Regions from separate parts of the Homo sapiens genome. Here region 1 is linked to region 2. The links come from fine-mapping of genetic effects on gene expression. A gene starts in region 2. The other region holds a variant in brackets. All regions are shown on one strand. Distances are between the middles of the regions. Region 1 overlaps PGPEP1 (pyroglutamyl-peptidase I). Region 2 holds the start of PGPEP1 (pyroglutamyl-peptidase I).

What was found. PIP is the estimated chance that this variant, and not a neighbour inherited with it, causes the effect.
Region 1: its variant is the best candidate, but not a certain one, in a credible set for the expression of PGPEP1 in neutrophils (BLUEPRINT, PIP 0.61).

Annotation. Positions count from the first base shown.
Region 1 is chr19:18,365,517-18,368,016 of GRCh38, forward strand. It overlaps PGPEP1 (pyroglutamyl-peptidase I), which reads left to right. Exons shown (of 5, transcript NM_017712.4): 5 at 1-2,500. Among named protein-coding and RNA genes, the nearest start is that of GDF15, 19 kb to the right of the region's middle. The variant G/A (reference allele first, on the strand shown) is at 1,488.
Region 2 is chr19:18,338,613-18,341,588 of GRCh38, forward strand. PGPEP1 (pyroglutamyl-peptidase I) reads left to right here and starts at 1,986. Exons shown (of 5, transcript NM_017712.4): 1 at 1,986-2,103. The coding sequence starts at 2,070. RefSeq lists a silencer at 1,835-2,024 and an enhancer at 1,856-2,543.

The DNA.
Region 1 (2,500 bases), 27 kb after region 2:
ATTTTTTATACAGACAGGGTTTCACCATGTTGCCCAGGCTGGTCTCGAACTCCTGGACTCAAACTGATCCTCCTTTCTCGGCCTCCCAAAGTGCTGGGATTACAGGCATGAGCCACTGCACCCAGCCCAGTTCTTTCTTAAAACAGCTGAGAGTTTTGTTTTCTTCAGCGTTCACCTTCCTTGTCTCCAGTTCCGATGCTGGCAGTGGTTCCTACCTCTGTTGGGTTTCTAGATAGTTTGGGAACGGGGTTGATGGGTTTCTGTGAAACACATTTTCCAAGTCTTGGGCTTTCTCTGGAGGGGAAGGTGGATGCTGGCGGGTGACTTGCAGTGGGCGCCTGGCAGTGGGTGTGGACTGTAACTGACAGGTGGAAATGAGTAGGGACACTATTGTTCCCTCCATGCCAGCTTTTTTTTTTGCTGGAAATGCCCCCTCCACACCCCTGGTAGCTCTGTGTCCTGAGAAATCCAGAGTGTGGGAGACATCACTGCATCTGTCCCCCCAGCTTCTGTGAAGGGAAGCTGTGGCCTCTTTTGAATGTGGGGAACAACTGAAGACTCAGGGGTCACCCAGAGGTCTGGTGGAAAGCAACTTCAGGTTTCATCTTGCTCTATTCCTCAAAGGTCTGGTCTGTGGGCCTCTGAGGAGAAAACAGGTCTAGCCAAGACAGGGACAAAATGGGGAAGGGGATGTGCCAGGCCTGAACTGAGCTAAGCACCTGCCCCGGGCTCCACACTTCCATCTTTCTTTTGTCTTCATTTCACCTCTGTGTTTAAAGCACTGTGTGACATAGCTCCTTAGAGATATAACCTATTGTCTGCTCATTGTCACGTGTGTGTGTGTCATCTTTGTATTCTTGCAGTGGTTTCACATTTCCTTACCCAGTCAAGCCAGTATCCCATCCTTCCTCATAATGCACAACATTTGGCTCATTTTATTTTTCTCATTGTTATTTTTTATTTTTATTTTTTGAGATGGATTCTCACACTGTTACTCGGGCTAGAGTGCAATGGCGTGATCTCGGCTCACTGCAACCTCCACCTCCTGGGTTTACACAATTCTCCTGCCTCAGCCTCCCGAGTAGCTGGGATTACAGGCGCCCGTCACCACACCTGGCTAATTTTTGTATTTTTAGTAGAGATGCAGCTTCACCATGTTGGCCAGGCTGGTCTTGAAATCCTGACCTCAGGTGATCTGCCTGCCTTGGCCTCCCAAAGTGCTGGGATTACAGGTGTGAGCTACTGCGCCTGGCCAAGTTTTTTACAAATATTTTTCTTTTGGTGGAACTCATCTGTGCACTCTCTGGTGTGTTTTTCCACCTTTGTTGGGTCTTGGCTTAAAATATCCTCATGTGGGCTAGGTGTGGTTACTCACACCTGTAATCCTAGCACTTTGGGAGGTTGAGGCAGGAGAATCCCTTGAGCCAGGAGTTCAAGACCAGCCTGGGCAACATAGCAAGAGATCCCATATCTACCAAAACATACAA[G/A]AATTAGCCAGATGTGGTGGTGCATGCCTGTGGTCCCAGATACTCAGGAGGCTGAGGCAGGAGGATCACCTATGCCTGGGAGGTTGAAGCCCCAGTGAGCCATGATCACACCACTGTAGTCCAGCCCGGGTGACACAGCAAGACTCTGTCTCAAAAAAAAAAAAAAAAAAAATCCTCATGCAAGAAGGGAAGGACCAAGTCCCATTCCCTCTTGCCTCATTTTCAGAGCCTGGGGTAGGGGCTACAGGTGGCATAGGAAGGGTCTGCAAGGTGGGTGGGACTTGGCAGGTGTTGGGAAGAGGAATAGGGGTGGCAAGTGTCAATGGTGAAAAGACAGGCTGAGGGGTGTGGTGGGAAGGCTGGGGGAGAAAGGTGAGAAGTGATTGGGGGGGCTTCCCTGATGAGTCCTCATGGAGGGTGCTGAGGCAGGGAACAGGGGTGCAGGGACAGTGATCAGGGCACCTGGTACCCTGACCAACTTGATGATGGCATCTCTTTTAAGATGCCCAAGTCTGCGCACTTTTATTCCTTTATTCGGCCCCTAGCACCCCCTCCCCACCCCAAAGAAGGTCAGTTGCATGCGTGTGGGGATGTAGCTCAAAAAAGAAATAAGATGGAGTGGAAAGGAAAGAAAGGAAGAAGCAGGAATTCAAGGTGGGTGGGCTGAGCTTGGGGCCACCTAGCCCACCTGCTCCAATCAAGGGCTGGAACAAACCTGAGGCCACTTGGAGAGGCAGGGCTGGGCAGGGACAGGGGGTGGGGGCCGAAATCACAGCTTCCCCATCAGAGCCAGATGTGTGAAGGAAATGTCCCAGATGGCAGTAGTTTCTCGGCAAGGAGGGGAATCCTGGAGATGGTTCATGTCTGTGATCCCAGTGCTTTGGGAGGCTGAGGTGGGAGGATTGCTTGAGCCCGGGAGTTCGAGACCAGCCCTGGGCAACATGGCGAGACCCCATCTCTACAGAAATTAAAAAAAAAAATTAGCCAGTTGTGGTGTCAAGCACCTGTAGTCC
Region 2 (2,976 bases):
AGTCCCAGCTACTCGGGAGGCTGAGGTGGAAGAATTGCTTTAGCCTTGGAGATTAAGGCTGCAGTGAGCTGTGATCGCTCCATTGCTCTCCAGCCTGGGCAAAAGAACAAGATCCTGTCTAAAAAAAAAAAAAAAAAAAAAATTCGTGACCCAAGTCCAAGGTCCAGTCCTGTTTCTGAAGATGTGGCCAGAAACTCAGCTTTCATTTTCTACCTGTTTTTAGAGGAATTCTGGTCTCTGATGAATGTTGGCAGAATGTGCCTGGGGATGTGCTGGGTGTTGAGACGCAGCTCTAACAGAACAACGCTTCCTCCTCTAGAAGTTCTCATCTCTATGTCGGAGGAAACGGGAAGCCAACCAGAGAGGCTGTGACCATACTAAATGATTTCTGCTTAATAATACCTGGGGAGGGGGCCGGAGGCAGTGGTTCACGCCTGTAATCCCAGCACTTTGGGAGCTGAAAAGGGTGGATCACCTGAAGTCAGGAGTTCGAGACCAGCCTGGCCAACATGGTGAACCTCCCTCTCTACTAAAAATACAAAATTAGCTGGGTATGGCGGCACTCGCCTGTAATCCCAGCTACTTGGGAGGCTGAGGTGGGAGAATTGCTTGAACCCGGGAGGCAGAGGTTGCAGTGAGCCAAGATCACACCACTGCACTCCAGCCTGGGTGACAAGAGTGAAACTACGTCTCAAATAAATAAATACATATATAATTTCTGCTTAATAATACCTGGGGGACTAAATAATCTGTACAACAAACCCCATGACACGAGTTTATCTATATAACAAACCTGCACATGTACCCCAAAACTTAAAAGCTAAAAAAAATTAAAAATGATTTCTGGCCAGGTGTGCTGGTTTACACCTGTAATCCCAGCACTTTTGGGAGGCCAAGGTGTGCGGATTGCTTGAGCTCGGGAGTTCGAGACCAGCCTGTGCAACACTATGAAACCCCCATCTCTACAAAAATACAAAAATTAGCTGGGTGTGGTGCCACACACCTGTAGTCCCAGCTACTCAGGAGGCTGAGATGTGAGGATCAGTTGAGCCCTGGAGGTCAAAGTTACAGAGCTATGATTTTGCCACTGCACTCCAGCCTGGGTAACAGAGTGAGACCCTGTCTCCAAAAAAAAGAGAGAGAAAGGAAATTATTTCTGAGCTTTATTGCTATGAAGAGGATGGAACCAGGGAATGAGATGGAACCACTGGGGGGTAGCAGTGAGGTCATTTCAGCCAAGGAGGGCCAGAAGGAACCCTCAGAGGAGGTAATAGGATAGCAGGGAGGTGATAGCCAGAGAAGGCCACAAGGAGAAAGTGACAGTTCACCCCTCGGAGGAGGTGACAGCCAGGACAGGAGGAGGGCCCCTGGGAGGAGGCGACATTGGAACACTGGAGCTGAGGCCTGAAGGAGGCCAGCTTCGCAGGTACCTGCGGGGTGTGTTCCGGCAGAGGGAACAGCAGGTACAATCGCCCTCCCCCATTAGCCTCCTAGGACCATGGGGGCCTGCAGAGAAACTTCTGGCACCACACAAATATGGTTGTCGTGTTTTTCCTTTTTTACTCTGTCCTCCCCCACCCCCGCCAACTTCCTGGCCTGAATGCTGCTCCTGTGACCCCTTGAGGCGAGTGACCTCGGGGAAGTGGCATTCTGTGCCTCAGTTTCCTTATCTGGAAAACGGGCCTTGCTCGCGGGGACTTCCCTCCCTAATTCTGCGCAGTATGCATGCATAGGGCAGGCCCTCAATGAACCCTTGCAGAATAAAGGACCGGCTCATCCCCAGCACCTGGCTCAGTGCGTGCAAGCGGCTACACACTACGGCATAAGATGTTCCCATTTTGCAGACGGGGAAACGGAGGCTGGGGAATACCGGGCCTAGCCGACGGGGGCGGGGCGCAGGGCGCGCACGCTGCGTCTCGGGCCCGGGGGCGCGCACGCCGAGCGGCTGACCGGGGGCGAGGCCGGGGGCTTGACAGGGGCGTGGCCTCGCGCGGCCGAGAGGCTGCAGCGGCAGCAGCTGTCGCGCCAGTCGCAACAGAAGCAGGTCCGAGGCACAGCCCGATCCCGCCATGGAGCAGCCGAGGAAGGCGGTGGTAGTGACGGGTACGCTGGCTGATGGGGGCTGTAGCGGCAGCGGCCGGGGGCAGAGGCGGGGGCGGCTCCGGGACTGCGGGGCCGAGAGGGGCAGGTGCTGGAAGTCCTCTCAGATTTGGAAGGTGTCATCACCCGCGGGAGCCCCGCGCAGCCCAGGCTTCCTGGAAAGTGGAGGAGGAGGAGCCTTGGGGGTCCCAGGGTCGGGAGTCAGGGCAGTCGGGCGCGGGGCTTGGGGGGCCGGGCAAAAGCCCGGCGCTGCGCAGGCCCCCCTGGCGTCCTTTCCTCCCAAGGTGGGGATGGTGACCCTCCTGGCACCTGCCTCCTCTGTCTGGCCTGCGGGCTGGACTGGACCCTTCCTCCCTGCCCCTTCCGAGGTCCAGCCTGTCCCCACACCGCTCCCCCAACCCCTGGCCCCAGGGGACAAAGGCCGATTTGCGGGCAGGAAGTGTCCCAGTGACAAATGAACCTCCCAGTCACTGCTCGCCGCGCCCTGCGCTCCTGGGGGGCTACTCTCCCAAGGCAGGGGCAGGTGGGGGTCCGGGGACCTCGGGCTCTCCCAGCTGTCCCAGGGACTGTCTTCAGCGGAAACCTTTTTGTGTTTTGTGCCAGGGCTGTTTGTTGGTGAGTCAGGGCCCCTGCTGTCACCGACTCCCCCCCACCCCCAAACCAACTGTTTCTCCTCCCTGAGACTCCGCCTCGGGGCCACGTGGGGCGCCAACTTCCGCTGGGGCCTCAGAGTCAAGGAGTGGGGGGGTCATTTTGACCTGCTGTCTGGAGGGGTCAGAGTGGGAAATCCAGCAAAGGTGCACACAGGTGTTTTGTGGCTGTTGAAGGGAGATTGAGGCTGATCCAGGAGATTCAGGGAAGAAGGAAGAAACAAGG